4 linked regions of the Homo sapiens genome follow. The protein of the gene in region 4 interacts with the protein of the main gene of each other region in a biochemical or structural test. Each region holds a gene or a part of one and is shown on either strand. Other genes may lie near its edges.

The links.
Region 1: of the proteins of PTPN1 (region 4) and CAPN2, one has a biochemical effect on the other in vitro, tested with the Homo sapiens proteins (one study listed by IntAct).
Region 2: the proteins of PTPN1 (region 4) and LTK form a complex in vitro, tested with the Homo sapiens proteins (one study listed by BioGRID and IntAct).
Region 3: of the proteins of PTPN1 (region 4) and CLK1, one has a biochemical effect on the other in vitro, tested with the Homo sapiens proteins (one study listed by IntAct).

What each region holds. Positions count from the first base shown.
Region 1 is NC_000001.11:223,714,972-223,722,944, forward strand, and holds part of CAPN2 (calpain-2 catalytic subunit), read left to right. Parts: intron 1-2,790; coding exon 2,791-2,860; intron 2,861-7,973. UniProt on the Homo sapiens protein: Calcium-regulated non-lysosomal thiol-protease which catalyzes limited proteolysis of substrates involved in cytoskeletal remodeling and signal transduction. Proteolytically cleaves MYOC at 'Arg-226'.
Region 2 is NC_000015.10:41,509,855-41,517,910, reverse strand, and holds the start of LTK (leukocyte tyrosine kinase receptor isoform 1 precursor), read left to right. Parts: upstream 1-4,083; 5' UTR 4,084-4,201; coding exon 4,202-4,244; intron 4,245-4,790; coding exon 4,791-4,934; intron 4,935-5,032; coding exon 5,033-5,204; intron 5,205-5,645; coding exon 5,646-5,796; intron 5,797-5,947; coding exon 5,948-6,094; intron 6,095-6,332; coding exon 6,333-6,489; intron 6,490-6,502; exon of another isoform or gene 6,503-6,564; coding exon 6,565-6,747; intron 6,748-8,056. Other genes in the region: RPAP1 (RNA polymerase II-associated protein 1), read left to right, coding at 54-113, 220-369. UniProt on the Homo sapiens protein: Receptor with a tyrosine-protein kinase activity. Following activation by ALKAL1 or ALKAL2 ligands at the cell surface, transduces an extracellular signal into an intracellular response.
Region 3 is NC_000002.12:200,854,299-200,862,271, reverse strand, and holds part of CLK1 (dual specificity protein kinase CLK1), read left to right. Parts: intron 1-409; coding exon 410-570; intron 571-805; coding exon 806-1,034; exon of another isoform or gene 1,035-2,056; coding exon 2,057-2,147; exon of another isoform or gene 2,148-2,525; coding exon 2,526-2,592; intron 2,593-4,182; coding exon 4,183-4,299; intron 4,300-4,387; coding exon 4,388-4,554; intron 4,555-5,286; coding exon 5,287-5,381; intron 5,382-5,460; coding exon 5,461-5,590; intron 5,591-7,185; coding exon 7,186-7,268; intron 7,269-7,576; coding exon 7,577-7,656; intron 7,657-7,973. UniProt on the Homo sapiens protein: Dual specificity kinase acting on both serine/threonine and tyrosine-containing substrates.
Region 4 is NC_000020.11:50,512,929-50,520,901, forward strand, and holds part of PTPN1 (tyrosine-protein phosphatase non-receptor type 1), read left to right. Parts: intron 1-7,973. UniProt on the Homo sapiens protein: Tyrosine-protein phosphatase which acts as a regulator of endoplasmic reticulum unfolded protein response. Mediates dephosphorylation of EIF2AK3/PERK; inactivating the protein kinase activity of EIF2AK3/PERK.

The sequences.
Region 1 (7,973 bases), on a different chromosome or scaffold from region 4:
GATCCCCATTTGCCAGTTGAAGAAATTGAGGCTTGGGAAGGTTAAATACTTGCTCAGAGTCAAGTGGATATAGGGCATAGATCCAGGACTGTGTGTAGTCTGTGCATGTTGAGCCTACCCCTTATGGCTGCGCTCTCTGCCTCCTTCCTACCTTCTCAAATGCTGCTGAGGTCAGGCAAGGGGAGCACAGTTGTTTCCGCTGGATTTGAACACTAGCAAGTCATTGGTGAGTTTAGCAGAGCAATTTCAATGGAAAGGTGAGAGTAGAAGCCAGATTGTTGTAGACTCCAGAGTAAAGGAACTGGAAATTAAGAACATGATCAACTTATTTAAGAAGGACCCCCGGGAAGAGAGGAGAACTGATAGGTAGAGTAGGACCTGGACTTTGAGAGCCTGTGTTTTTTTCATATGAGAACAACTTGAATGTGTCATATGTTGAATCACCAGGAAGAAGGGATTAAAGATAAAGGCAGGGAGGGGGCAGTGAAACAGGATCCCTGAGGAAGTGAGAATACGGGTTGTGGGCAGGGGAGGGGAGCAGGTTAGCCTTGCAGCAGGAGGAGCTGCTCTTCCTCGGAGAGAGGATTTCACAACACTGGCAAGAGTGGCTCCAGTGCCTGGAGCGGGGATTAAAGCAGTAAGTCCAGTGGGGTCCAAGGGCCATGCAGGGGTACAGTGAGGAGAAAGCAGGTGTGATCCGGGTGGCACATCAGATCCTTCCAGCAACCAGTCTGTTAGGAGCAAGGGCAGATGTTGTGAGCCCCTATGTTTCCCCCAAGAAAATCAAACCTCTGAGAGGTTTCTCACTTGCTTATCTTCAGCTGGCCGAACTCAGCCTCAAACCCATATGTCCTGTCTCCAAGTTCAGTGACTGTTATCATCAACTTCTTCAACAGTAATAATAATAGATCACATTTATGGAGTGCTTGCCAGGGCATGTTTACATCATTATCTCATTTAACACTCAGAACAATCCTCTGTGGTGGGTGTTTTCATCGTTCCCATTTTGCAGGTGAAAAAACTGAGACTTCAAAAGGTTAAGTGACTTCCCAGGGTCCTACGACCTACATAATAAGTGGCAGAGCCAGGATTCAAACCTAGGTTATCAGAATAATGCAGCAAAGCCCAAACCCTCAGCCCCTTTTCACTGACTGGTAAGACCCATATTTAATTCGATGCCCTACATGCCGTGCACAAGTTTCAGTTTTCTGAAGCATCGCTTAGATGCTTAGGTGTTTAGCACCACTCTGAACTCTGACTTTTCTAGAGAGGCTGCTAAAGGCATTAGAAAGTTTCTGAAGTATAATGGAAAAACCCTGCTGGAGTAAGTGCCTGGCACACTCAGGATTATCAGTGTGATTCTTTATAATAAACAGGCTCCCAGCACCAAGCCCAATCTATTCCATCAGCTGGATAAGAGCTCTCTGGCAGGCCTTGGGCCAAGCTGGCTTCCTTTGCCTCAGCAGAAGAGCATTCTGATTCTCTCTGCCATCCCCAAAACTGACAGGAGCAGAGAGAAACAAGGCAGAGGCATGAAGGGAATGTCCTCTGCGGCAGATGGTGCTTCCGGAAGAGCTCCCACAATCTGAGCTAGAATGAACAGGGGCTAGATCCAAGTCTCATATAGGCATACTTCTGCTTGACAGAGTGGGCATGCCGAGGGCCGTTGGGTGGAGGCAGGCGTGTGCAACCCAAGCAGACATGAGACGCAGCTCCTTCAAGGCAAGGTTGCCTGAGCCCAGAGAGGCTCAAATTTGTGCCCCAACTTCCTCTGTGGCTTTTGGGTGGGGCTCTTCAGAATCGAAACACACTCAGAGGGCTGCTGAAAGGGCTAAGAAGTGTTCAAGGTTGGCTTCCATCAGGCTGCTCATGACAATGGCCCCTGAGGTTTTAACACCCTTGAACGCTTGGTACTAAATCAATTAGAGGCAGGGCAGGAGCAGAAAGAGTTGGCGCATTTGATCAGTAAGTTCCAATGCCAGTGCTGTCTATTATCTGTGAACTGTGTTAACTTTGGACACGTCACTTCACCTTTTTGAGCTGTTTCCTCGTCTGTAAAAGGGGGATAATACCCATTCCATGAGGTAAAGCTTTGAGCACAGTCTCTGATGTAAGCAGGTACAGAATATATAGATGCTGTAAGTTTCATGGTCCCATGGAAGAATTCAAAAGGGTTAGATCCCGCCTGCCCTCAAAAGGGTATGTGTTAGGAAATCAGAGTAATACCTAAGTAGTAAATTGCAGAGTCCAGAGACTCTGGGACTCAGACTTGAAGGGATGAGTGAGGATTGGACTAGGACGACTTCACGGAGGAGGTGACAATGAGCCTCAAGGTATGATGCAATATGGAAAAGGAGGGAAGAGAGTGGGAAAGGAAGGAATTTCATGCAAGCAAAACAACTTGCATGCAGTAACAGAGGAGAGAGGATGCTAACCCAGTGGATAGGGTGGCTCTAGAGTGTGGATGGTCTCCACGTCTGGCAGAAAAGGCTGGACTTGCTGCTGTGGCCCCCGGGACACAGCACAATGAAGGAGGCTCCAGGCAGTCCAGAGTGTGCAGGGTCCAATGCCTGCCCTTCTCAGACAGGACCACCCATCCACCCATCAGGGCCCAGGGAGCAGGGGTCAGAAGGACCTCATGACACAGAGTTCTGACTGTGATGACACACTTTCCCCAGAGGGGAGGGGAAGGGGAGAAGGGGTTAGAAGACCCCACTGAGAATGGAGGCATCCTAGCTGCAGAAGCACCTGGCTGGTAGGCTAACAGCACTTTGTGGGTCTCGTTCCCAGGAGATCTGCGCTGACCCCCAGTTTATCATTGGAGGAGCCACCCGCACAGACATCTGCCAAGGAGCCCTGGGTAAGTGATAGATTCAGAGCAAGCTGGGGGATCTTGTCTGTAAGGCTGTGGGTGGAAGAGATGAGGGACAACCTGTGGCTTCTCTCCCTTCCCAAGCAGCTTGGCAATTTCTATTTGCAGAGAAGCTCCATGGAATTTCTTGGCCCTAGCGGGCAATGATTCTACCCTCAGCCCCATGCTGGGGCACACAAATGAGGCCTCCTGTGTCCCCTGCACAGGGCTAGTTGCTGAGGTTACAGAGATGCTGCCACTAGGAGGACCAGGGGGCTTCTGGATGTCAGCCACCCCTTGGTATGCACCTCCTGGAGCCAGCATTACCAGTGGTTCACGAAATACACTCTGGGCAGAGGACTAGGTGGGAGGACTCCCCCAGACCAATGACAGCACTGAGACATCAGTTCTGTGAGGTTCAGGAACCAGGGAAGGTGACTCAGTGTAAAGAAAGAGGAAACTCTAATGCTCGCTGCTGAAGGAAGTTATAGTACCAGGGCATTCTCAGTGTTTGCAAGACAAGCTCACCATGGTATCACAGTTGTAACGCTCATTTAAGTAAAATGAACTGGAGTAGCTGAATTGTCCAAAACCTTGCTTTCTGGAGCCGAGTTCAGATTTGTTTCTGGAGATAGTCCTTGTTGAAGGTTTCAACCCACAGGGTTCTCCACCTTTAGTATGAAAATTCCCAAAGCTTCTAGGAAGTCCCAGCAATGGGGCCTGGCGCTGTTATCTAAGATTCTCATAGAATCTGCCCTCAATGTTCTTTTACTCATAATAAATGTGGGCCTATAATTACTAGAGCAGATTATTTGCTCTGATAAACCAAAAATCTATTTTCTGCCATCAGCCTCAGCTGGCTGGCTCCCCAGACAAGTTCATCAGTAGCAAAATCAGTCAACTAGAGTTGTACCTCCTGTCCTCACCCACCTAGCAGAGGTTCTGTTACTCATATACTCCTAATACCAGCTGATAACAGCTAATATGTATCTCTAAGGCACCGTGATTATTCCCATTTTATAGATGAGGATGCAGAGGTCTTCCTACAGCTAAAGTGGTGGCTGGTACCCCTGACCCCAGGGTATGTTTAATTCCTGAGCTAGACTCCCTAAGACGGGACCTGGAAAATTTTCTAGCCCTGAGGAATGTCAGAGCATCATGTGAATCATTAGGACAGACAGACTGTGAGGAAGAACATGAGCTGGGCGGGAAAGTTTGTCTGAGCTCAGGCTCTGCAGATTCCTGAGATGCCAGAGCACATTCTTACCTGCAGAAAACACTCCTTTCATTTCTTTTCTTCTCGCCCCACAAAAGACAGAAGATAGAGGTCCTTGAGCACCCAAGGCGGATCCTCCAGGAAAATCTATTCATTAGAGAAAATGGAATTGATGGAAACTTTGACCAACCCCGGGGGCTTTAGAGAATCCAGAAACAGCCGGCGCAGTGGCTCACATCTGTAATCCCAGCACTTTGGGAGGCCGAGGCAGGCAGATCACCTGAGGTCAGGAGTTAGAGACCAGCCTGGCCAACATGGTCAAACCCTGTCTCTACTAAAAATACAAAAAAATTAGCTGGACGTGGTGGTGGGTGCCTGTAATCCCAGCTACTCAGAAGGCTGAGGCAGGAGAATTGCTTGAACCCAGGAGGCAGAGGTTGCAGTGAGTAGAGATGGCACCACTGCACTTCAGCCGGGGTGACAGAGAGAGACCCCATCTCAAAAAAAAAGAGAGAGAATCCAGAAACAAACACAGCAACTGCCTAACATCTGCTTCAGAGTTTAACAACACCTTAAGTGCCAAAGTGTAAGCAACAAATACATGATTTAAGTCCTGTGTAAATACCACTGGGCCAATTGGAGAGGAGATAGCAAAGGTTAACATTCCTGGGAGAAATTTCCCTCCCAGGGGAATTATAAACCAGGTGAAATGTAAACCTTTTAAAAATTTCTTAGTAGCTAGTCTGTAATTTCTCAGGGGTGTGTGCGTGTGTGTGTGTGTGTGTGTGTGTGTGCGCGCGCGCGCGTATAATGCAGTATTGGTCATTTTGTTCTTTCAGCCTTTTATTTTGGAGGACTCTAGTTAGATCACAATCTGTGAAATGTGGTATACTGTACTCTCACCCTGATTCTGGCACCTGGCCAGCGGGTGCTGATGGGGCCTTGACCTTCACCAAATCCCAACAGCCTCACAAGCACCAGGAACAGAGGCCATGGCAGTGACACTCTGTGACATGGCCAGAGATATGAGCCTAGACTCAGCTCTGTTGGTAGTCCGAAGACTGGGCAAGTAATTACCTGGAACTTCCATCTGGAACCTCCGTCTCTTCCAAAAACGGAGAAGGAAGGAGGGTAAATGGAGTGACCTCAGACACCCCCTATGAGTTTGTATTCAGCTATTCTAAAGCCATTCCCGGGTTTCTAACCAGCTACTCCTCATTCCTTGTGCTAGAGGGTTAGAGCACTACAAGATCATCCTTATTTTCTCTCTTTCTCTCTTTTTTTTTTTTTTTTTTTGACAGGGTCTCACTCTGTTCCCCAGGGCTGGAGTGCACTGGCAGGATCTTGGCTCACTGCAGCCTTGGCCTCCTGGGCTCGAGTGATCCTCCCACCTCAGCCTTCTGAGTACCTGGGACTACAGGCACACGCCACCACACCTGGCTAATTTTTGTATTTTTTTGTATAGACCGGGTCTTGCCATGTTGCGCAGGCTGGTCTTGAACTTCTGAGCTCAAGTGATCCACCCACCTCGGCCTCCCAAAGTGCTGGGATTACAGGCGTGAGCCACTGCGCCCAGCCAAGATCATTCTTTTATTACACACAGAAGGAGTAATAACAGTACCCATCACCTGCATAACAGTATGCAATTCATAGAGCATTTTTTCACTACAGTATTTCATGTACTCATCCCAAATCTAAAGTAAATATTCTCACCTCACTGTACAGATAAAAAAAAACTGAGCCACAGAGACGGGAGAGTAAGTGTAAAGCCACACAGCTAGTAATTGCCAAAGGATTGAACCCTGGTCTGATTTTGAATCCTACACTCTTCCTAACCCATGCTCCCTCCAATTTGCCATAGTGCTGTGCTGAGGAACCATTCTCAGCAAAATTCATCTTCTCTACCTGCGCTTTCTACCCTGAGCCTTACTCAGTTCCCCCAGGGAACTTGGGCAGGTGACATTCTTAGACTTGTGCACTTTGCAACGCCCTGCCCTGTTTACTGTGCTGCCCAGCAATGTTTAATCCACAAACACCCACGCTCCTTCCCAGAAGGCTCAGCTTCCAAGCTTCACCAAAGTCATTTAAACCATGTTTACAGAGCTGCTCTCACCAAGAGCCATCTCCATTGCAGAATATAGTTGTGTAAGAATTGATTCAGCAGAGAAAAATCTGCCCTTCTGGAGGAAGGGCTGGAGACCCAGCTGGAGCCTCCACTGGCTGACCCTGCAGCTAAATATGGCTCTGAAATCGTGGGGTAATAACCACATTCTTACAGGTGCTTGCCACTTGAAATGGCTCCCAAGGACCCAGGAAACTCCAAGGCTGAGCTGCTCCTACCTCTGATGCTTTACTTTGCACTGGGTCACCACTGAGCTTTCCCCACAGCCTCACAGCTCACGGATGAAGGCAGCTACCCCAGCCAGGAAGGCATAGGTCACCTTGCAGGCCTCTGATTTCCTGGGGTAGAGCCCAAGGCTGCCAAGGCTGTTGAAACAGCACACCCCCATTTCATTGTAACCCAGCAAATGTTCCCTGGGCCCCTCAGAGGTGGGTCAACCTGCCTCCTTCTCAAGATGTCACATGGACCCCCAGAGCACCCACTGGGAGGTGTTTAGCTACAGGGTGCCCCACCCCACAGCCTAGCTCAGCAGAGAGTGGGGAAGGGACAAGACCAATGGGAAAGGCAAGCCAGATGGGGAATTTTCCAGTCCTGTTCCTTCTACCACTCATTAGCCACTTATTTGGACCCAACCCCTCTGAGCCTCAGTTTCTTCTTCTGTGAAATGGGAATAATGATAAGGATCCCTTCCCAGGGCTGTGGAGAAAAGTGAGATTTATACAGGCAAACACACTTGGCACACTATAGAATCCCAGACAAATTCAAGGGACCAGGATTATCATTACTGATTCCAGTTATGTGAAAAGTCCTTTTGCCAAATTGCCGAAGAAAAAGAGGATGGTGGAGGAAGAGAAAAGGAGGAGAAGAAAATAAGTTGGGTTGGAAACCAGATCCTTGTCCTTGAAAATTTCATAATCTAAGGGTGGAAATGCCAAAACGAGGAGAGACAAACTTGTGGCCTGTGTTTGGGTAACACACAGATTGAAACTCAGAAGGAGAAACATATGGGGAGAAAATGAACACAAAGGGGTCAGATGTGCATTCCTCAATTTTAAAAATTGAATATTTAAGTGTTTTAAATAATTTTTATTTCTTTTCCTTTCTTTCTTTTTCTTTCTTTCTTTTTTTTTTTTTTTTTTTTTTTTGAGACAGGGTCTTGCTCTGTTGCCCAGACTAAAGTGCAGTAACAAAACCATAGCTCACTGCAGCCTCGACCTCCTGGGCTCAAGCAATCCTCCCACCTCAGCCTTCCAAGTAGCCAGGACTACAGGCACGCACCACCTCACCTGGCTAATTTTTGTGTGTGTCTGTGTGGAGATGGGGTCTCACTGTGTTGCCCAGGCTGGTCTCAAGTTCCTGGGCTCAAGCAATCCTTCTGCCTTATCCTCCCAAGTGCTGGGATTACAGGTGCGAGTCACCACACCTGGCAAATAATTTTTAAATTATAAATTTAAAAATGCATTTTTATAATAGGTACCTTTAAAAATGTTAATAGACTTTTTTTTAAGAACAGTGTTAGGTTTATAGAAAAGCTGAGATGATAATACAGGAAGTTCCAGATACCTCATACCCAGTTTCCCCTATTATTAACATGTTACATCAGTGTGGTACACGTGTTATAATGAATCAGCATTGATGCAGTATTATTAAAGTCCATGCTTTATGCAGATTCTCTTAGTTTTCCCCTAAGGTTCTTTCTCTATTCCGGGATCCCATCCAGGACCCCACGTTTCATTTAGTTGCCAAGTCTCCTTCGGCTCCTCTGGGCTGTGACAGTCTCTCAA
Region 2 (8,056 bases), on a different chromosome or scaffold from region 4:
GTGGTGGGTACCAGCCCTCGGCTCAGTGCCACCTCTCCCTGTTCTGCTTCTAGGATGAGGTCAAAGCTGCCCGCAGGAGTATGCTGCAGAAAACATGGCTGCTGGCAGATGAGGTAGGGTCAGGGCCATTAGGAGGGTGGGATATTAGAGGATCTTGGGGGACAGAGACCACAACAGGATCTCATTACCCACTTCATAAGTTTTCTTTCCTTTCTGCAGGGTCTCCGGCAGCACCTCCTGCACTATAAGCTTCCCAATTCCACGCTCCCAGAGGGCTTTGAGCTCTATTCTCAGTTGCCCCCTCTGCGTCAGCACTACCTCCAGAGACTGACTTCAACAGTGCTCCAAAATGGGGTATCAGAGACCTAGGATAGTTGATATAGATGGAAAGATGGGTACGTTGTCCTGTATCCAGCCTTTCAACAGATGTCTGGCCAGACGAAGAACATTGTGTCCTAATGGTAGGCAGGAGACCAAGGAGCAGAAGGCTTGCCTTCCTGGGAGCAGGTTGTTTGAGCTGTTTTAGAGCAGTGAGCCCTACCATTACATCCTGATATCTGGGGCTTCTGAAGGTCTGTACTGGGAGTGAAGAGTGGCTTAGCTATTTACCCGCTCTTTGGGGACAGGGCAAACTAAATGCATCCCTTCTTACCTAACTCCCAACCCCTGCCCTGGGCTGAGGCATATGAATGCTATAGTTGTGCATTAAAATAAATGTTTTTTATCTCCTGGAAATTTGATCTGGACTGATTTCAGCCATGTTAGTTCAGGGTTAGTATCTGGGGGTGGGTTATCCCAGGTGAGGAGCAGGACTGCTGTGAGAGAGATGGGGAAGAATCATAAGTGGGAGGTAAAAACTTTGTCCACATCTGGAGACAACAAGAATGTGGGGCCTGCCAGGCACAGTGGTACACACCTGTAGTCCCAACTACTTGGGAGGCTGAGGCAGGATGATCACTTGATTCCAGGAATTCAATTCCAGCCTAGCCAACATAGTGAGACCCCATGTCTGTCTGTCTGTCGGTCGGTCGGTCTGTCTATCTATCTATCTATCTATCTATCTATCTATCTATCTATCTATTTCTGAGACAGGGTCTTGCTCTGTTGCCCAGGCTGGAGTGCAGTGGCGTGATCATAGCTCACTGCAGCCTCGACCTCCTGGGCTCAAGCCATTCTCCCACCTCAGCCTCCTGAGTGGCTGGGACCACAGGCAAGTGCCACCACGCCTGGCTAATTTTTTGTATTTGTAGAGACGGAGTTTCACCATGTTGCCCAGGTTGGTCTTGAATTCCTGAGCTCAAGCAATCCACCCACCTCAGACTCCCAAAGTGCTAAGATTACAGGCATGAGCCGCTACACTTGGCCTATTTTGGTAGTTTCTACATTGTTCTTTGGTCTGAATTCTAAACTTTAGGCTTTCTTAGACTGTCTTTTGCTGTGTGGATTACTTATTGTGTTTGCAAGTAACCAGAGTCAGAGCAGTGTGCCAAGGCCTAGCCCTGTCAGTAGGTAGAGAGAACCCAGTCTTCATAAATGGAGCTGCTGAACACAGAATTATCCAATAGGTTTTTTTGGGTTTTTTTTTTTTTTTTTTTGACACGAAGTCTTGCTCTGTTGCCCAGGCTGGAGTGCAGTGGGGCAATCTCAGCTCACCACAACCTCCCCCTCCCTAGTTCAAGCCATTCTCCTGCCTCAGCCTCCCAAGTAGCTGGGATTACAGGCGCGTGCCACCACGCCTGGCTAATTTTTGTATTTTTAGTAGAGATGGGGTTTTGCCATGTTGGCCAGGCTGGTCTTGAACTCGAACTCCTGACCTCATGATCCGCCCGCCTCAGCCTTCAAAAGTGCTGGTATTACAGGCATGAGCCACTGGGCCCAGCCTTTTTTTCTTTTTTTTTTTTGAGACAGAGTCTTACTCTGTAGCCCAAGCCAGAGTGTAGTGGCATGATCTTGGCTCACTGCAACCTCCGTTTCTGAGGCTCAAGTGATTCTCATGCCTCAGCCTCCCGAGTAGCAGGGGCTACAGGCATGCACCACCACACCGGGCTAGTTTTTTGTATTTTTATTAGAAGCGGTGTTTTGCCATGTTGCCCAGGGTGGTCTCAGACTCCTAAGCTCAGGCAATCCGCCCACCTCAGCCTCCTAAAGTGCTGGGATTATAAGTGTGAGCCACAGCATGTGGCCCCAATAGGTTTTATTAAGCAACTACTGTATCAGCAAATACCAATGATTCTCAAACTTTGTGACAAAAATCATCTGGAGGATATTTTAAAACAGATCACTGGGTCCTACCACCAGAAGCTGCTGATTCAGTACATCTGGGGTGAAACCCAAGAATCTGCATTTCTAACAAGTTCCCAGGTAATACTGATGCTGATGTTCAGAACAAACCACACAACCACAATTTGAAGAGCAGTGGCTTAAAGAGACTTTGCAAGGTAAATTCTGTGATCTCATAGTGTGATATCTAGTGTTAAGTAGGGCATAGAGACCAGGGTTTTTTTGTTTTTTGTTTTTTTTGAGATGGAGTCTCACTCTGTCACCCAGGCTGGAGTGTAGTGGTGCAATCTCGGCTCACTGCAACCTCTGCCTTCCAGGTTCAAGCAATTCTCTGCCTCAGCCTCCCAAGTAGCTGGGATTACAGGCACCTGCCACCACGCACGGCTAATTTTTGTATTTTTAGTAGAGACGGGGTTTCACCATCTTAGCCAGGCTGGTCTTGAACTCCTGACCTTGTGATCCACCCCACCCCCACCGTCCCCTTGGCCTCCCAAAGTGCTGGGATTACAGGTGTAAGCCACCACGCCTGGCTGAGACCAGACTTTTTACAAAATCACTGTTCTGTTTACACCTTGAATTATACTCAGACTTTACCAAGTAGCTAACTACTATAACTTCTCTTTTGAAGTATTTTGTATTAAACATAGGTCTCAGACTTTCAAGTTAGGATTTTTTTTTTTTTTTTTTTTTTGAGATGGGGCTTTGCTCTTGTTGCCCAGGCTGGAGTGCAATGGTGCGATCTCGTCTCTGCAACCTCTGCCTCCCAGGTTCAAGCCATTCTCCTGCCTCAGCCTCCAGAGTAGCTGGGATTACAGGCGTGCGCTACCACGTGTGTCTGATTTTGTATTTTTAGTAGAGACGGGATTTTGCCATGATGGTCTAGCTAGTCTCGAACTCCTGACCTCAGGTGATCTGCCCGCCTCAGCCTCCCAAAGTGCTAGGATTACAGGCATGAACCACCGCACCCGGCAAATGATCATTTAAGCAAATGATCGAAGACTCAAGACACAAAACTACCTGAAGGGAGTGGCTCCCACATTTGTAGGGTACCTTACAGAGCAATTTCCCTTCATATGATTTTGCAGGTGGTGGGGAAACTCTCAGGGCAGTTGTGGCCTGTGCTACATCACCCATTGACCAGAGGTGCCAGTACTAGTGCTCAAGATCAATCGATCGATCGGTCTACCTACCTATCATCTATTGACCTTCAGTGCTACTAAAAACACTCGGATCTTCTAACGTCTGGTCCAGTCTTTCACCCCATCACAGTGAGAGGCTGTGCACAGGGGTAACACAGGCAACGGAATTATATGAGGCAAACACAGAGATCCAGGTTTCTGGGAGTAGCAATGAGGTTCAGCCTTGCAGTCACAAAGGCACCACTAAAAGGCACAAGTAATGGCAGGTAATGAGGCCTTACTTGGAGCAGTTTAGAGTACTTCCCACGTGTGGTGACGCATGCCACACACTCACCACCACCACCACTGCCACAAATGAAGTGCACACTCCACTGCTCCTGTCCTCAGGAACCTGGAAGCCCCCACCTGGTGTCCGAGGTGTGGCTCCCACTTTAAGCGTGGGGCACCTCCTCTCCGGCCTCAAACCTACCGGAGCTCCCAGCAGGCTGCGGCACATCTGACGGCTGGAAACTAGAACCCCTGGGTGGGGACTCCTTAAGGCTCCTCCCGGAAGCGTAGGGACCTCGCTGCCCACACGCCCCTCCCTTTCCTCCTCTGGCGTCCTGGGGTCTGAGGTGGGCGTGGCCAGACCAGCTTTAGGTCCGGGGAGTGTCTCGCCAGCGGCAGCACACCCCTGTAAGTGGTGGCCAGGGCTGCCGTGGCAAAATGAGCTGTCAACTTTAGGTTGACAGGGGTGTGGCCGCGACCGCAAGGGCTTTTGTTGCCGGGTGGACCCAACAGGGATGGGCTGCTGGGGACAGCTGCTGGTGTGGTTCGGAGCCGCGGGTAAGTGCTATCTGGCGGTCAGGGGACCGTCCAGCCTGAGGCACTTTCCTAGGCTTGGGGGTGGCCGGTCAACAGGCCAGGTGTCAGTGGTTCCTCCAGAGGCCTCGAACTCTCACAGCCAAATTTCTCCGGTCCGTGCTTCTGGAGTGCGGGCCGAGAAGCGCCAAGTGCGTGCGAATCCCAGAGTCTGGATCACGCAGCTTGGGAAGGAGGAACATTCTTTGGGGTCTCAGCACCGCCTTGGGGCGGGGCCACCAATCTAAGTTGAGGAAAGCATTGGGGAGGCTGCAGGACCAAATTCATTGCGGCCCCTAAGTTATTCACTGGGAAAGGCGCTCGAGGAGAGAAACTGGCAGACCTATCAGCGCGCACCCGCGGGGCTTCTGCGACCGGAGTCGGGTAGTGGCTTCCAGGCTGAGAGCGCGGCTGGGCCGGGTGACGGGTGTGGCCGCGACCGCAAGGGCAGCTGTTGCGGGGTTCTCTCTTTCTTTCATATCCTATTTCCACCCGCCTTAACGTCCTGCGCCTTCTCCCAACACCTTTCAGGCGCCATTCTCTGCTCTAGCCCGGGGTCCCAGGAGACTTTTCTGCGGTCCTCGCCCCTGCCGCTGGCAAGTCCCAGCCCCCGGGACCCGAAAGTCAGCGCCCCGCCTAGTATCTTGGAGCCAGCCTCCCCGCTGAATTCTCCGGGTGAGCTTTAGACGCCTCCTTCCTCTTTCGCTCACCATACCAGACCCCTCTGGCCCAGCCAGGGGCTCGACGACCCTTGCCTCGCTCCTTGCTCTCAGGCACCGAGGGGTCTTGGCTGTTTTCTACCTGCGGGGCCAGCGGCCGGCATGGGCCCACACAGACACAATGTGACGGGGCGTACGCGGGGACCAGCGTGGTGGTGACCGTGGGGGCCGCCGGGCAGCTGAGAGGCGTGCAGCTGTGGCGCGTGCCGGGCCCTGGCCAGTATCTGTAAGTGCACGGCGGAGGTAGGGTGGACAGTGACCTGCTAGTTGGAGGTTTCACCCTCAGGGTAACGAAGTCCACGTGCGCACCGACTTGCGTCTTGGACTATTCCGCGGGGAGGTCCACCTTGAGTGCCCTTCAAGGTGGCAGTAGTCGCCACCGAGTTAGCCCTTACCCGGAACCTCTTACACCGAGCGGAAGGCCCCCAACCAGGGCGGCGCCAAGGGGTGCTTGAGCCTCCCCACATTTCCACGAACCCTCCTGAAATAAGTGTAATATCTGATTTTTCGGTGTGCAAACCTACCCTTCCCATCCCGTCAGAGTCGATTGCAGCCTCCAAGTCCCTCAGATAAAAAATAATTCTGGAGCCTCCTCTGTCGCCAACTTCTGCCCGGAGCGGCCGGCCTGAGCACCGAAGGCCGGGGACTCACCGTCCGTTCCCCGCAGGATCTCAGCCTACGGAGCCGCGGGCGGCAAAGGCGCCAAGAACCACCTGTCGCGGGCGCATGGCGTCTTCGTCTCAGCAATCTTCTCCCTCGGTCTCGGGGAGTCGCTGTACATCCTGGTGGGGCAGCAGGGAGAGGACGCCTGTCCCGGAGTGAGCGCAGCCAGTGGGGATGGGGCGGCGCCGGCGCCGGGGGCGAGGGCTGCCTGGGGGCCGGGGGAGCGTGCTTTCCTCGGTGCCGGGTCACCAGCACAGCGAGGGGAGGCTCCCGGGCCCCGCCGATTCCCTCCCCCGCTGCCCGCAGGGTAGCCCGGAGAGCCAGCTCGTCTGCCTCGGGGAGTCTCGAGCCGTTGAAGAGCACGCGGCGATGGATGGGAGCGAAGGGGTCCCGGGGTCGCGGCGCTGGGCGGGAGGTGGCGGGGGTGGCGGGGGCGCCACCTACGTTTTCCGGGTACGTGCTCCCTTCGGCGCTCAGCGTTGGGGTCCCAATCCTCTCCCCAGGGGCGCTCACGCACCGGCTCTCCGTCCGTCCCTTGGGGTCCCCCTATCCCTGCGCTGGGCTGGGCTGGCCTGGGCTGGGCTGGGGGCCCCTGCCCTTATCCAGGCCCCCTGGGCGGGAGCCCTCTCCCAGTGGCAGTGCCCCTGGACAGCTGGAGGGCGCTTCCTGGAACACGCCGCTGGCCCCACAGGTGCGCGCTGGCGAGCTGGAACCGTTGCTGGTGGCGGCCGGAGGCGGCGGTCGGGCCTACCTGAGGCCGCGGGACCGAGGCCGGACTCAGGCCTCCCCCGAGAAACTGGAGAACCGCTCGGAGGCGCCCGGGAGCGGCGGGAGAGGCGGGGCGGCAGGTGAGGGCGCGGGCCGCGGGGAGAGGCGGGCGTGCTCCCCGTGTGGCTGCCAACCTTCCTGCTGTCGCTCTGCAGGTGGTGGGGGCGGCTGGACGTCGCGGGCTCCCTCTCCGCAGGCCGGCCGCTCACTGCAGGAGGGGGCGGAGGGCGGCCAGGGCTGCTCCGAGGCTTGGGCGACCCTTGGCTGGGCCGCGGCCGGCGGCTTCGGGGGCGGCGGCGGGGCCTGCACTGCGGGCGGAGGCGGCGGCGGCTACAGGGGTAGGTGCACCGTTGGAGAGGGCAGCTGAGCAGGCCCGAGGGTGAGGTGATGTTAGAACCTAAGTACAGGCCGGAGCCCTCGGGAGGATAGGTGTGGGAGAGGCATTAAGCCCTGCTCAGCAGCTCCAAACAAAAAGCAGGAGCTCTTAGAAAAGGAGGTCAAATACACTGCAAATCAGCATGCAGACAGGACTCCCTAGATTTCCGTTTAATCCAGGATCTTTCCCATCACAGCAGGTCCCTGCCTTGTTCTGCAGCAGTCTTCAGAACTTAGAGCTGGCCGAGTGAGCAAGCTGAGCAAAGGGGCAGAAAGGCAGGATTGGGTTAAGTCAGTGGTTCTCAAAGTGTGGTCCAGGAACAGGTAATATCCCCACAACCTAAGTTGTTCGAAATGCACATTATCAGCTGGGCCTGGTGGCTCACGCCTGTAATTCTAGCACTCTGGGAGGCCAAGGCAGGTGGATCACCTGAGGTCACCAGTTCGAGACCAGTCTGGCCAACCTGTGAAACCCTGTCTGTACTAAAAATACAAAAATTAGCCGGGCGTGGTGGCGGGAGCCTGTAATCCCAGCTACTCTGGAGGCTGAGGCAGGAGAATTGCTTGAACCTGGGAGGCGGAGGTTGCAGTGAGCCGAGATCACTCCATTGCACTTCAGCCTGGGCGACAAGAGGGAAATTCTGTCTCAAAGATTAAAAAAAAAACAATGGAAATTATCCTGGGAGTTGGGGGAAGGTTGGGGAGATGCTGGTCAAAACAATGCAAAATGGCAGTTAAATAGGAGGAATACCTTCCAGAATCTACTGTACTACATGGTGACTGTAGTTAATGACGATGTATTCTTGAAAATCGCTAAGAGAGGCGGGGCGCGGTGGCTCACGCCTGTAATCTCAACACTTTGGGCGGCGGAGGCGGGTGGATCTTGAGGTCAGGAGTTTGAGGCCAGCCTGGCCAATATGGTGAAACCCCCATCTGTACTAAAAATACAAAAATTAGCCGGGCGTGGTGGCATATGCCTGTAGTCCCAGCTACTCGGGAAGCTGAGACAGGAAAATCGCTTGAACCCGGGAGGCGGAGGTTGCAGTGAGCCAAGATCGTGCCACTGCACTCCAGCCTGGGTGACAGAGCAAGACTCTGTCTCAAAAAAAAAGAAAAGAAAATTGGTAAGAGCGTAGATTATAGGTGTTCTTACCACAGAAAATAAGCATGTGAGGTGGTGTATATATTGGTTTGCATTAGCCATTGCACAGTGTGTACATATTTCAAAACATCATGCTGTATACAATAAATATATGAATTTTTTTTTTAGAT
Region 3 (7,973 bases), on a different chromosome or scaffold from region 4:
TGTATACGTGCAGGTCACTGGGGATATGATGGCTTAGCTTGGGCTCAGAGGCCTGACAGCGTGGACTTCTATAGTGCTATATTTGTACTACTGGGAGGGCAGGGGTAAAATGTACCAAAATTAGTAAATTGTGATTCCTCCCTCTACTTTTTTCACTTTTTTTTTTTTTTGCATTCTTCCAATAAATCTGGGCATGATATGGCTAATGCAGAGTGCCTGTGAATGAAGTTCAAACTGCAGAATATGGGACAACACAGTAATTGGATTTATCAGTGATTTCAGATTGGGTGATAATGATTCTTGAATTTTGGTCTTAAAACGAGGTCACGAGGGGACCTTTGTAATTACGAATTTTAAACAGCTCAGTGTGGGGTACAATTTAACTAGGAAAAACTTGCCTTTTATGTAGATGAGACACTCAAAGAGAACTTACTGTCCTGATTGGGATGACAAGGATTGGGATTATGGAAAATGGAGGAGCAGCAGCAGTCATAAAAGAAGGAAGAGATCACATAGCAGTGCCCAGGAGAACAAGCGCTGCAAATACAATCACTCTAAAATGTGTGATAGGTAAGGAGGATACTTAAAATGTCTGAATATAACAATACATTACTAGACAAAACTAGTATCACTTAAAATAAGTACCTGATTACTACCATTCGTTTGTTTCCAATGAGAGATTTTGATGGTTTGTAATGTTTGTAAAATTAAGCTGCTTGTGGGGGAGTCTAGGTGCTGTCTTGAAGAGAATGTGAGGATATTTGGTCTTAGCATAAAACATTGAAAATAATTTTTATTTCTCTAGCCATTATTTGGAAAGCAGGTCTATAAATGAGAAAGATTATCATAGTCGACGCTACATTGATGAGTACAGAAATGACTACACTCAAGGATGTGAACCTGGACATCGCCAAAGAGACCATGAAAGCCGGTATCAGAACCATAGTAGCAAGTCTTCTGGTAGAAGTGGAAGAAGTAGTTATAAAAGCAAACACAGGATTCACCACAGTACTTCACATCGTCGTTCACATGGGGTATGAACGTTTTTAAAACATTTTGGAAATTTTATATCCCATGTGGAACAGGGAAACTTGAATTTTTGTGTTTGATTATTTGAGAAAGTTTTAAGATGAAATCATCTCAGTTTTAACCTGCAGGATTTTTTCTGTGTTTGTGCATTGGATAGGAAATTCCGGAAATAAAGTACACATTTAGTTCTATAATTTAATTATTGGTTGGCTCCTAATTGACATTCCAGTGAAATGATGGGAGTTAATTGATTTAATTTAGATTAGTTGAAAATTATTACAAAATATTCTAAAAGGGTTTTTTGTGGTACTTCAAGAAACCTGATTAGTTTTGATCTATTGAAATCACAAAAGTAGAACAGGGCATTTTATTTTTGTATAATTTAGGATTAGGTATGCTTCTTTGTTCTAACAAGTCATGTTTTCTAACCCTTCTTTCACTAAGCAAACCAGAACAGATTTGAACTGTTATGGGTTATATATTAGTATGGAGATCAGCTCAGATGACATTAAAAATGCCGTAGTGTTATTCTTGTATGCCAAATCTTTTTTTCCCCAAAATTAGCACTTTAATTTTATTTACTGTTATAATATTTGTTTTCTTAGATTAGGTAGGAAATCTTAATTTGGCCACCGCCTACTTTGACAAGTAAATATTACATCATACGATTTTGCAACATTAAATTAGAACACTAGAAACTAAAAAATTATGTTTCAGTGAATGCTACAACTAAGCATTTTTTTTTTTTAAGAAAAACAATTGTATTATGTTTTGTTGCCTTGCCACTTTGAGTATCTTATCTGAAAATCTGTTCCTTGCCATGTTTTTCTCCTGTTAACATAAACTATGTGCCCTGTGAATTTCTGGGGACTGAATTTGAAATTGCTCCTGCCAACCGTTTGTGGCCTGGCGTGTATCTGAATGCCTGAATATCTCCCCGCTGAATGAATTTCGTATTCTGCCCTGAATTCACTCGGGTATATTGATTGGCTGGATGATCTTGGTGCCGCCCACTTGACGTTTCCAGAAGAGTCACCGAAGGAAAAGAACCAGGAGTGTAGAGGATGATGAGGAGGGTCACCTGATCTGTCAGAGTGGAGACGTACTAAGTGCAAGATGTATAGAATATTTTTCAACACTTATTAACTTTTCAGATAACATAATCTATATATAGATTAAGCTTTCAGGGATTTGGAAATCTTTTTTTCTTTCTCTTTTTTGTTTTTGTTTTATTTTTCCATTTCTTTTGGTGGGGGGGATTGTATTTTTGCTTTCTTTAGAAATGTAATGTTTGTTATATAGAACTTCCAGAACAGTAATCAAATTAATGAAATTAGACCTAATAATTATGTTTTTTGATGGTGTTGACCAATAAAATATCTAGTGATAAGGAAATTTGTAGCATCAACTAGAATAATCTACATTGATAGCATTTATTGTGATAAGTACATTGTTTCCACTTCTTGATATGACTGAGATTTATTTCTCTCTTTTAGATGAAATTGTTGATACTTTAGGTGAAGGAGCTTTTGGAAAAGTTGTGGAGTGCATCGATCATAAAGCGTAAGTTTCCCATGTTGGGATTACTTTTAGGGAAGTTGGCAATACAGGTAATTGATTTAGCTTTAGAAAGTGGTCTGACCATGAGTTAGATACATATCTTTATACCCTTTTTTACTTGGATGTAAGACACTTCCAGTTAAGAGGTACTTGCCCCTTCATATTTTTTAAACAGCTACTAATAGTATGTATAATTTCTAATTTTAGGCTGAGAACACACTTTATATTGTTTTGAAAGTATTGTTTTGTTGTTCAACTGGACACTGTTGTTAGGCCATATTTTTTTCCCCCACCATATTAGTGGTTCTCAGCCTTGGTTTTATGTTAAGATCCTCCTCGAGAGGTTTGCCTACCCCAGACCTTTTCAGGGTAGTTACCTAGGAATCTATATTTTTAGGAAGTGCTGTAATTCATTCTGATAACATAGCTGGAGATAACTTGGTGTCCCAAGTTTAATTATGTATGTTTATCAAACTACTGATTGAAATTTTTTTTTTTCTCGAGACAGAGTCTCGCTCTGTCACCCAGGGTGGAGTGCAGTGGCGCAATCTCAGCTCACTGCACCCTCTGCCTCCCGGGTTCAGGTGATTGTTCTGCCTCAGCCTCCTGAGTAGCTGGAACTACAGACACGCGCCACCATGCCCAGCTATTGTTTGTATTAGTATTGTATTGTTTGTATTAGTAGAGACTATGTTGGCCAGGCTGGTCTCGAACTCCTGACCTCAGGTGACCTGCCCACCTCAGCCTCCCAAAGTGCTGGGATTACAGGCATGAGCGCTTGGCTCCAGCCATGAAATTTCTTAAGATAGTATAGAATTTTTTCCGTTACTCTTTTTTTTTAGTTCCCTGTTTGTTGTTGTTGTTGTTGTTGTTGTTATTGTTCTTCCTCTTCCTGAATGGCAAAGCATTTTTGAGGGGGCTTCCTACTATTGATTGGTAAGGACATGAGAGCTAGAGCTCTTTTTTTGTTTATTTTTCTTTTCCCTGAGATGGAGTCTTGGTCTGTCGCCCAGGCTGGAGTGCAGTGGTGCAATCTTGGCTCACTGCAACCTCCACCTTCCGAGTTCAAGTAATTCTCCTGCCTCAGCCTCCCAGGAAGCTGGGATTACAGGCACACACCACCGTGCCTGGCTAATTTTCATATTTTTGGTAGAAATAGGGTTTCACCATGTTGGTCAGGCTGGTCTCGAACTTCTGACCTCAAGTGATTTACTACCCTCGGCCTCCCAAAGTGCTGGGATTATAGGCGTGAGAGCCACTGCTCCCGGTCCTAGAGCTCTTTACTCTTTCCCCACTGTATCCTAACTCTTTTGGCAACCTGGACTAAAAGAACATTTGAGATAATGTTTGACAGTGACAGGTACCATATAGGAAGAAGTTGTTTAGCTGAAATACCAAAAAATAACTCATGTGAGTGGTGGTTTGATGAAAGAAATTTGTGTCATTCAGCATGTAATAGAATCAGAACTGAACACTAAACCATAAATTAAAAAAATACAGTGGGTCAGAGTAGTAGTACAGTTTGAAGACAGTAATACCTGGAATTGAGCATCATGTCTGTCATTCTTAAATTTGCATGCATCTTTCTAACAGGGGAGGTAGACATGTAGCAGTAAAAATAGTTAAAAATGTGGATAGATACTGTGAAGCTGCTCGCTCAGAAATACAAGTTCTGGAACATCTGAATACAACAGACCCCAACAGTACTTTGTAAGTATCAGATTAGAACTTGGGAAGTGGTATCAGGTATATTTAAATTAGGAGCAACTATACTTAGCTATTTTTCATGTGTTTGTAGCCGCTGTGTCCAGATGTTGGAATGGTTTGAGCATCATGGTCACATTTGCATTGTTTTTGAACTATTGGGACTTAGTACTTACGACTTCATTAAAGAAAATGGTTTTCTACCATTTCGACTGGATCATATCAGAAAGATGGCATATCAGATATGCAAGTCTGTGAATTGTAAGTTCTTGGTATATCTTCGTTAATTTGCTGGTTTTATCCATTCCACATATCAAAATGTGCATCCTAAGTGTGTACAATTTTTATTTGATTAAAAATAAAGGGGGAGGAAGAATAGGTATGAAGAGATTTGATTACAGGCTGTTGATCCAGCAGTGTACATTTCATTCAGCAAGTAGGATATCCACCATATAACAACGTACTTTGTTGCAGACTATGATTTAGACTTTTCTGATGCGCAAAAATAGTAACTTCGAATGCTGGGTAAAAATTAAGGCGTGATATATCTCATAAAAGAAAGCTTCATAAGAGGTAGTAAGTTTTAGTTACTGGTGATTTTCTAGCAGACTGGAATGTTGACCATTCTTTGGGAAAGGAATCAGAGGTTTTTTGTTGGGTTTTTTTGTTTTTTGAAATGGAGTCTCGCTTTGTTGTTCAGGCTGAAGTGCAGTGGCGCAGTCTTCACTCACTGCAAACTCTGCCTCCCCAGTTCAAGTGATTCTCCTGCCTCAGCCTCCCGAGTAGCTAGGACTACAGGCACACGCCACCACACCCGGCCAATTTTTGTAATTTTGGTAGAGACAGGGTTTCACCATATTGGTCAGGCTGGTCTCGAACTCCTGACCTCAGGTGATTACAGGCGTGAGCCACTGCACCCGGCCTGTTGTGGGGTTTTGTGATTTGGTTTGGTTTGGTGTTTTCTGATTACAGCAACTTTCTCTTTATTCTCAGTTTTGCACAGTAATAAGTTGACTCACACAGACTTAAAGCCTGAAAACATCTTATTTGTGCAGTCTGACTACACAGAGGCGTATAATCCCAAAATAGTAAGTCTTCCAAAATATTCATAAAGTATCTTATGCCTTAATAGCTTATGCCTTCTTAACCATCATTTATGATTTTCAGAAACGTGATGAACGCACCTTAATAAATCCAGATATTAAAGTTGTAGACTTTGGTAGTGCAACATATGATGACGAACATCACAGTACATTGGTATCTACAAGACATTATAGAGCACCTGAAGTTATTTTAGGTGAGTATTAATTGTCCTTTGAGAACCTTTGTATTTCCTTATTGAGACTTAAAATTTTTTTAGCAGTTTTAGGTCTTACTTGTGGGGCTTTATCATATTCTCTTTAAGGGATAAGTATCATGAAGTGCATTATGGATTTTAAGCTCTCAATTGTACCAGATAATTAGCTCTGGGAATTTGAGCAAGTGGCTTAACCTTTCTGGAATTGTTTTCACATTTGTAATATGTGGTAGGGTTTTTAAATGTAATTGTTTAATGCCAGGTGGGGCGCGGTGGCTCACATCTGTAATCTCAGCACTTTGGGAGGCCAAGGGTGGGGCGCGGTGGCTCACATCTGTAATCCCAGCACTTTGGGAGGCCAAGGCGGGCAGACCACATGGTCAGGAAATCGAGACCATCCTGGCTAATATGGTGAAACCCCATCTCTACTAAAAATACAAAAAATTAGCTGGGTGTGGTGGTACACGTCAGTAGTTCCAGCTACTCAGGAGGCTGAGGCAGAATTGCTTGAACACCGGGAGGCGGAGGTTGCAGTGAGCCAAGATTGCGCCACTGCACTCCGGCCTGGGCGACAGAGCGAGACTCCATCTCAGAAAATTGTTTAATGCCTATTTTATTCCAGACTATATATAACACTATATAATTTATTTATTTTTATCATTTATTTATTTTTTAGACGGAGACTTACTCTGTCGCCCAGGCTGGAGTGCAGTGGTGCAATCTTGGCTCACTGCAACTTCTGCCTCCTGGGTTCAAGCAATTCTCCTGCCTCAGCCTCCTGAGTAGCTGGGATTATAGGCACCCACCACCACACCCGGTTAATTTTCTTATTTTTGGTAGAGATGGGGTTTTTACCATGTTGGCAGGCTGGTCTCAAACTGCTGACCTGGAGCAATCTGCCTGCCTTGGCTTTGCAAAGTGCTGGGATTACAGGCATAAGCCACTGCGCCCGGCCATATATATTGTATTTAACCTTGGATTAAGTGATTGCTTTAGGATCTTCCAGCTCAAACATCACATTGCATATATATGTGTATATATATAATTTTTTGGGGGGGGGGCGGAGTCTTGCTCTGTCACCCAGGCTAGAGTGCAGTGGCGCGATCTCGGCTCACCGCAAGCTCCGCCTATGGGGTTCACTCCATTGTCCCACCTCAGCCTCCTGAGTAGCTGGGACTACAGGTGCCTGCCACCATGCCTGGCTAATTTTGTTTTTGTATTTTTAGTAGAGACGGAGTTTCACCGTGTAGTCAGGATGGTCTTGATCTCCTGCCCTCGTGTTCCACCTGCCTCAGCCTCCCAAAGGGCTGGGATTATGCCTGTAGCGTGAGCCACTGTGCCCGGCCAATTCAGATATATATATATCTTAATAGAGGTGGGATCTCGCTGTGTTGCCCAGGCTGGTCTTGAACTCCTGAGCTCAAGCAGTTCTCCCATCTTGGCCTCCCAAAGTGCTGGGATTACAGGTGTGAGCCACTGTGCCCAGCCTACATTACATGTGTTTTTTTTTTTAAAGTATTAGTGTTAACTAACTTTTTAATTTCTTTAACAAACATTGAGTATTTTTTTTCCTTAAATTTTGCTTTGCTTTGCAGCCCTAGGGTGGTCCCAACCATGTGATGTCTGGAGCATAGGATGCATTCTTATTGAATACTATCTTGGGTTTACCGTATTTCCAGTAAGTGACAATGATCTATTTCAACCTTGCTTTGCACAAGAAAGGTGCCTGTTTATATGAATAAATACTTTTGCTTCCCCCATTATAGACTATTAATTGTAGATAAGCATAAATAAACTAATTCATATTTCTTTCATAATTGTTTTATTTAAAACATCTTTCAGTATATAAGCAATTATCCGTGTCCATGTAGGGAATCATTGGCGAGTTTGTTCTGCAAGCCTTAATGTTAGTTTTTTTGCTGTCAGCTTTAACTGTGTCTGTTTTGGTGGTCATCTTCCCCAAGTCTGTTTTTATTTTATTTCTAGACACACGATAGTAAGGAGCATTTAGCAATGATGGAAAGGATTCTTGGACCTCTACCAAAACATATGATACAGAAAACCAGGTACGTTTTAAGAGTTAGTGACATCCTTAGTATCATTTGATCACATCTGCTGATTAGAACTTAATTTTTTTTTTTTTTTTGAGATGGAGTCTTGCTCTGTTGCCCAGGCTGGAGTGCAGTGGCGTGACCTCGGCTCAATGCAAGCTCTCCCTCCTGGGTTCACGCCATTTTCCTGTCTCAGCCTCCCGAGTAGCTGGGACTACAGGCACTCGCCACCACGCCCGCCTAATTTTTTTGTATTTTTAGTAGAGACAAGGTTTCACCATGTTAGCCAGGATGGTCTCGATCTCCTGACCTTGTGATCCGCCCACCTCGGC
Region 4 (7,973 bases):
ATACTTTGAGCTTGCCTAGCCTATTGTGATCAGAGAATAATGTAATTTTTGCTTACAACTTGGTAAGCAGGTCAGTTATTCTAACTTATTTTCTGATTAGAACAAAAAGATGTAAAAACTTGAAAACTATTGGGAAAAGAACAAAGAGTGAAGAGGACTTTTGAGTGCTGAGGAATGTGGCAGCTTGGAAAACAAACTTTTTAGGCAGAGATTCTTTGCTAGGTCAGTTTGATAAAGTGAGCATAACCGTATTTTTAATCTTTAATGCTAATGAATAGCATAGATGCTAATAAGCATCTAGGTCTATAAAAAGTCAGCTTTGATAGTGTATATAGATGGCTTTAAACATTGTTTTCTAGCATTTAAACACTTTCAAATCATCCGGTTGCTTGATTGGGCCTAGCTGTCTAAGAGGAGAGAATGAGCCCAGATGAGGAAAAGAGATTGATTTTACTGAGCTAGAATGAGAGGAGAGAGGGTTGAGTGAATGAAAAGAATAGCTCATGTGCTCCCCTCCATCTGTAGTTTAAGAGGGGTTGGGTCCGGTGTTTTGCTTGTTTTCTCGTCTGTAAATTCTTTGATTCTCTGACACCACTCACTATATTTCATTGTGAATGATTTGATTGTTTCAGATAAAGGGGACTGCAATAATACCTTGTGACATGAAGGCAAGATTTATTCATGTTAGAGGCAGGCTTTGTAAAATGGGCCACTCTTCCAATTGACATTTGTTTTTATAGCTGTTTTCATTATGAAATACAATCTAATGCCTGACTAGGTTAAAACCATGTTGTAACAATAGTTCACTAAAATTCCTTACTGATATACAGCTTATGTTGTTATATTCCAAAAAGATGAATATTAAAATTTGCCAATAATGTTTATTTAAATACTATTTTCTTCAGAGGAAAAAAAACTATTTTATGCAAAGGAGAAAGATCTATACACTATGACTCACTTCACTTAAAAAAAAAAAGACTAACGGAAATGACATGGAGAGACTGGGAAGTTCTAGTCATCTTGAGTGACCCATTAGATCTAAATGTTCTTGTTTAGCCCTGGTTTGAGTGAACTAAATTTAGGTGTCTGATCAGTACTTTGGAAATGGTGTAAATGCCTTTGTAATTGTCTGGACTGATATTAGATTAACTGGGAGCACAAGTAGAAATAGTGAAGGAAAGAACTTTTTGCTATTGTTATTTGACATCACTGGCATATTTATAGGAATACTTTGGTGTTTTTGGAAGTAAGTAAACCAACCAGTGGTTCTAAAAAGTCAGCTGGGGGATAATGGTAATGCCGCTGTTTCTTAGCTGCAAGTTATCTGCCGTTACTTCTCCTCCATTTTGCATTTTATCTTGAATAGCTCCTCAAAACCTATTAAAATACCTGGTATTGAATAATGTAATTGAATGTGTACTGAATTTCACAGTGGAAATGAATAAGAAATTTCCTGTGGAGGTTTTTTGACTTAGCTACTGAAATAACGGCCTTTTGTTGTGTGATTCTTTCCCTTTTCTCTTTGTTAAAGAAAACTGTCTTGTGATCTTGTAGATTACAGAATCCTTTTGGCAATTTCTGTTCCTAGCACTGCTTTTTCTTTCTTTCTTTCTTTTAAATAGAAATGGGGTTTTGCTGTGTTGCCCAGGTTGGTCTTGAACTCCTGGCTTCAAGCGATCCTCCCACCTTGGCCTCCTGAAGTTGGGATTGCAGGCGTGAGCAGGTACTTTTTCTGAGGCCTGCCTGAGCCTATATATATTTTGCACAATTTGGCATTCCTCCCTACAGTGTTTATGCTGATTTGTTTCTGGTAACAACTAATACTGGCAAATCGGCTGGGCATGTTACTTTATGCTGCCCATATTCAGGAAAATTGGAATTCTAGCTGGGTCATTGTTCCCAGATGATGTAGTTTGGCACCAGCCATTCCATGTTCACATTTTGAGTATCCAGGAGGGCTGGGGACTTTGGAGTAGTTGGTGATTCCCTCTGCCACATTTCACTGGTTGGTCACTATGGCATCCTTTCCACCACACTAGTAGTCTAGGTTCTCAGATGTTGCTTATGAGCCTGCAATGGTTTCTAGTTTCACACTGCAGAAATGAGTGAAGCCGGTTACCCGTTAATATGGTCCCATCATCACTAGAGTAATTCATTGTTCTAAAACCAGATCTGAGTCTCTCACTCCTCTGCAACTACTTCTGATTCTTTCATAACACTTGTAAAGTCCAAACTCCTCTTTAGCATGGCAGCCAGCTTCCAGTCCTTCCCTCCTATGTGGCTTCCATTCTAGCCAGACAAGAAAGGGCAGCGTTCTCCAAACTCATCCTCGCCCTTCATTCCTCTATACCATTGCTGAGCACTTTGTTGAGGATGCCTCTCCCGTTCAATCTAGCTTGCATCTTCCAGCTCGAATGTGTGCTTCCTTGCACCAGAGTTTTGTTCCGTCACCTGTGTGTTTTCATACAAGCTGGCACATATCTCTTCTAAAGCCCTGCTGTCATTGTAGCTGCGTCTTTACAAACATTTTTTTTTTAAATTTTTATAAAGTCAAGGTCTCACTATATTGCCCAGGCTGGTCTCAAACTCCTGGGCTCAAGTGATCCTCCTGCCTTGGCCTCCCAGAGTGCTGGGATTATAGGTATGAGACACTGTGCCCAGCTGTAGCTGCTACTTTATATCCCAGGTCTATCTCCAATGGAGCCCAAGCTTCCTGAGGCCACCTGTTGTATCTTTCTCATTCATCTTGAAGTCCTCTGCTCCTGGCACAGAGTAGGTACCTAACAAGAGTTGGGATTGAATTGATGGTCAGTACTTTGCTAGCCTGATGGTATAAAGATGTACAAAACATGTTCCTGGCTCCCACTCTAGGGGGGCAATGATGGAAACAAATAGATTAGCCCACATTAGTACCAATAGTAGAGGTCACTCTGGGAGAAGGCCCCCACCACATTTTGAGTCATGGCCTAATGAGGTAATTTAGTATTGCCTGCTGCAGTGGCTTTGGAAGAAAGGCTGGCATTCTTAGCCAGTAGAAGCTGATACCACTGATTTGTTTCACAGAAGCTTTAAATATAACAATAAATTTGTGCTTGGCCTACGGTGAACTTTACAGGCAACTTGGAGGTAATATGTTTGTCTCTCTAAGAATTGTTGAATTCCTCTTCCCTCATCCCTCCTGACTGGTTCTCACAAGCCTAGCGGGCCTTTGCATGTGGTTGGTTCATAAAATACTTTTTGATTTTGGGATATAAAATATAGTTCTCCATAAAATAACGACTGTTACCAAGTCTTTGATTTTTTTTTTCAAACTATAAATGGTAATGACATTCTTTGGCCTTTGATCAGACCACCCTTAGGGGCAAGAGAGTAGTTTCATGTTTTGCTTTTTCTAGTGTCCCCTGTGTCTGGGTATAGTTGCAGTCTCAGCTGTCATACTAACAGTGCTGAGTGAGTCCCTTACTTTCTTTGGGTTTTGGTTTCTCCCTTGTAAAAATGATCCTGGACTAACTGATCATTAAGTTCAGGTCAAGTAATAAAAATCCTTAATGTACTCACAAATACAATTTAATGTTCCTGAATAATCCTTGTAAAAACTGCAGCAGTTACTCAGTTTTGTAAGGTGTGGTTGGGTACTATTAGGCTCAAAAGTTTATAGGAGCTTTGTGAGTATAGTTAACAACTCAAAAGAATGGGGTGTTTTTTCCCGAGGGGCATGAAATGTTTTTGATAAATAGAGTTCATTTGACTTGGTAATGTGGAAAATGAGTAGCCCTGACACGTACGCTATGCTTTTGCAGTTTTTCTCTCAAGTAGCAATTGGGTGGCTTTTCCTGTAAAAGATAGAGGAACTGATTCTTGAGAATTTACGAAAGCTTCAACCCTAACTAGGTATGCAAAGAATAGTTGCCCTTTATGTTGTAATTTTAGGAAGAAACCTACATCTGGTCTAAGTTTCATTTGAATAATATGATAGTTTACACATCTGCCATATTTGAGAAGAAAGTACCTAAGTCTCCAGCATTTTAGAAATAATGCTTTACTTTGTGTAGAAATGGTCTTTAGAGTTTAATAGCTGCTGCCCTCTCCTTTTTCAAAGCAGCTTGACATAATCATGAGTATCTTGCTGACAGCTTGTAAATTTTGATTGTATGAAAACTGAAAATAAGACCATTTCACATGGAAGATTCCCTCCTGCCCTGAAACAGCCAAAGAAAACTGTAGCCATCAAATCTATTGATCTCTGGGCTTTGGTACAAGTCACACTACTACAAATAAAATAATACCAAGTACTTATAAATGATTTTCAGTCCTTTTAAAGTTTATTTTTTTAATATTTTTTTTGAGATGGGGTCTTGCTGTGTCGTCCAGGCTGGAGTGCAGTGGCACAATCTTGGCTCACTGCAACCTCCACCTCCTGGGCTCAAGTGATCCTCCCACCTCAGGCTCCCAAGTAGCTGAGACTACAGGCATGTGCCATCACGCCCAGCTAATTTTTGTATTTTTTTGGAGTAGAGATGGGATTTTGCTGTGTTGCCCAGGCTGGTCTTGAACTCCTGGGCTTAAGCCATCTGTCTGCCTCAGGCTCCCAAAGTGTTGGGATTACAGGTGTGAGCCACTGTGCCCGGCCCAGCCCTTTTTTTAAGAGAAAAACGTATGACATCGTTCGATTTACTGAGTGCTTATGGTTTTACTAAGGCAGTAAGGTTTTATGGATACCCTATGGTAATTAGATAGAATTAGTGCTCTGAAGTCAGCTCTGTAATATGGACTCAGAGTAAACATGGCAAAGGGACACTTAAGGTCTGCATTTTCTCTGGGAAATAAACGTATTCTTTACTACTCTGAATCTAGTGCTGGGAAATTCTAAATCCTTCTTGAGGATTAACCACTTGAAGTAAAGTTTTGGGTCCCAAGTAGGCTTGTGTCCCTGTCTCCTTCTCTTTACTTTTCAGATGTTTCTTCCTAGAGACTGAGGTATATTTTACTTTTACAGATGAAGAAGGAAGCCTCGGCTGTGTTTGTGGCTTTTGTGGGTGAGCAACATCACTTGCAAAGATAAGATGAGCATAGCAAAACTAGGCTTTCAAAATAATTTTTAAAAATTTCTTAGTGATTAGAAAAGGAAAACTCTTCCCTTGTCTCTGTTAAGAAACGTTTTTCGACTTTTTTCCTTTCTTAATGGATCTTTTATTGGCACTTCTCTTCCTTTTGCAGAATCTTACTTAAAAGTCACTACGTTACATTACAGCAAACAGCTTAGCTAATTTTTATCCAGATGGGCCCCGGTTACAGGATTGTACACTATTGCGAATTTCTTACAGGAAAGTGAACATCAAGTAATTATTCCAAATAGAGTTCTCTTAAGAACGTGAGTTACTTAAAAATGTCTAAGGATGAAGTCACTTCTGAATATAACTTCACTCAAGAGAACAAATAAGCAAACTGCATTTAGCATAACATGGTAAATTAGCTTTAACTCTCCTTGATGTTTGAACATTTGTCGCTGTTAACTACTGTTTCACTTTTCAAATAGTCAGGGCTTAGTTTGCTTCTGTAAGGATAAAGGGAAAATACGCCTTCACTGAGTCATAAATATTTTTGTGGCTAACTTTTGCACAGAGAAAAGAGGCCTCTAAGAAGGTACCCAGTGAATTTTTTTTTCGGGGCAGGGAGAGAATATGTCATTTTTTGGTTTGTTGTTGTTGTTGTCATTGTTTTGCTTTGTTGTTTTTACTCTGAACTGAACTGTATCTTGACAGCACTTTTGAATTAAGAGCATTACTCTTATTGTTCTCTACTACCTGGACGCCACCTCCCTGTTGCCATAGTGTTAAGGATCATGCTCCGAGGTGGGGTGAGGCAGAATGGGGCCAAGATCAGAAAGTTACATTAAGCTACATCAGGTTTATACAAGCATAAAACCAAATTTTTGGAGCAGTCCCCAGAATACAACCTGGTTTAGCCACACCTAAAGGTTGCTCTTGAATATTCCTTGAGAATCCACATCCCTAGAATGCTGGGTTTCAATGGGCCCTTTATGTACCTATCATGGTGTCATTTCTGAGCATTTCTAAATATTCCTTCATGTCTTACTGACAGTTTTTCTTGAATAAATCTTAGGAATATTAGTGCCATTATCAGTATTTTGTTTGGTCTGTTCACACCACAAATAACTACCCAGGTCTGCTACTTGCCCCTATTTCTCTACCTGCTAATGAAAATGCTTTTGAAAGTTTGAGTAACAGTATTGGAGTGTGCACAGTGGTATTGGTAGGTTCTGTACTCATCCTTAACCACTTGTTTTCATCCTTTGTGAGCTTGAAGTTTCTCCAAAAAATTTATCACAAAACTTATCAGACATAGTTAATACACTCAGAGAGAGAATCACTGAAAAAGTAGATGTAGTTTAACAAACCCAGTGCCTTTTTTTTACCCATGAATACATATTTGTCAACTAAACCTCATTTTGCAACTTGTTCCACTACTCGAATGGTAACAAACTTTTGGTTTCCCAATAGATTTGGAAGATGTTGCTTTTGAAAGTAGGAAATAGATGGCTTTAGAAGATGGAAGAATATTTTGTTTGAAGTGGGAGCGTGGTATGTCCTTAGCTGTCTGTGAAATGCAGCTGAAGATGGGTGTGGGCCTTCATCTGCATTTCCCATCTTCAGTTTGAGGAGGTAGTTACCCTTCTAACCACTTAAGAACTGCATGGTACATGCTGTTTTATTTACAGGGCAAAACTGTGCTCCCGTAGTTTCCCTGGTGCTTGCCTTCACGTTAACACAGTGTCATCGTTTGGCAGTGTTTATGTGCCAGGGTCCATGTTAGAAGGAGGAAAGGTATAGCGAAGTTAAAGGGTGCAGTTGGCCTCCCACCTTTAGTTTTGTAAGTGCCTTTAAAGTTTGATTTTTGTAGGTTGATCATAAGGAAGTGATAAGTATGTTAGGTTATTTGTGGTTTGAGCTAATTTTAGTCTCTTTTTACAGCTTGCTTTGTATCCTTTGCCATTAAAACATGCTTTCTAGAAAGACAACTTTTGAATGTAGGACACAGTCTATATTCTATACTTGGCTACATTTCAAAAAATATTTTCTCAGTACTTTGGAAGTTGGACAGTTGGAAGCATAGTGACAGTATTTAAAAATCTTTGATTCCGGCCGGGCATGGTGGCTCACGCCTGTAATCCCAGCACTTTGGGAGGCCGAGGTGGGTGGATCACTTGAGGTCCGGAGTTCAGGACCAGCCTGACCAACATGGTGAAACCCTGTCTCTACTAAAAATACAAAATTAGCCGAGCGTGGTGGTACATGCCTGTAATCCCAGCTACTCAGGAGGCTGAGGCAGGAGAATCGCTTGAATCTGGGAGGCGGAGGTTGCATTGAGCCGAGATCATACCATTGCACTACAGCCTGGGGGACAAGAGTGAAACTCTGTCTCAAAAAAAAAAAAAAAATTAAGTGATTTCTTTGCTTTGTGACACTTCTACTTTTCCAGCAAGTAAATTATATTCTTTCATACAGGTATGAAATTCTTGTTCCAAGCTAGTGGTTAAAAAGGCACAGTTGATATTAGAGGATTTGTAAAAGATTATGACCACGCCTGCAATGTACTGAAGCAAGGCTTTGCTGGGCTGTGTATAGGAAACCTTCCCCAGCCTGTGCCCTTGCTTGATAGAACATTTTGCTCCTAAGGGTAGGTGCCTGTATCTGTCTCCAGTACTGGTTAGTTTCACACAGAACAGTTGTGTTTCAGAGCTTTAGTCTCAAGCTGCCCTGCTCCCCTGAAGCAGCCACCCTGAGCATGTGCACTCACAGGAGGGGACATGTGAGGTCATGGAAGAAGACGACTCAGGAAGAAGAAGACTTGGGTTTGGGTTCTGACTCTGCCTTTGACTGTTGTGGGATTTTGAGGAGTTGCATACAGGATCTGTAAAATGTAGTCATTAGACTAGACTAGACAGCCATATA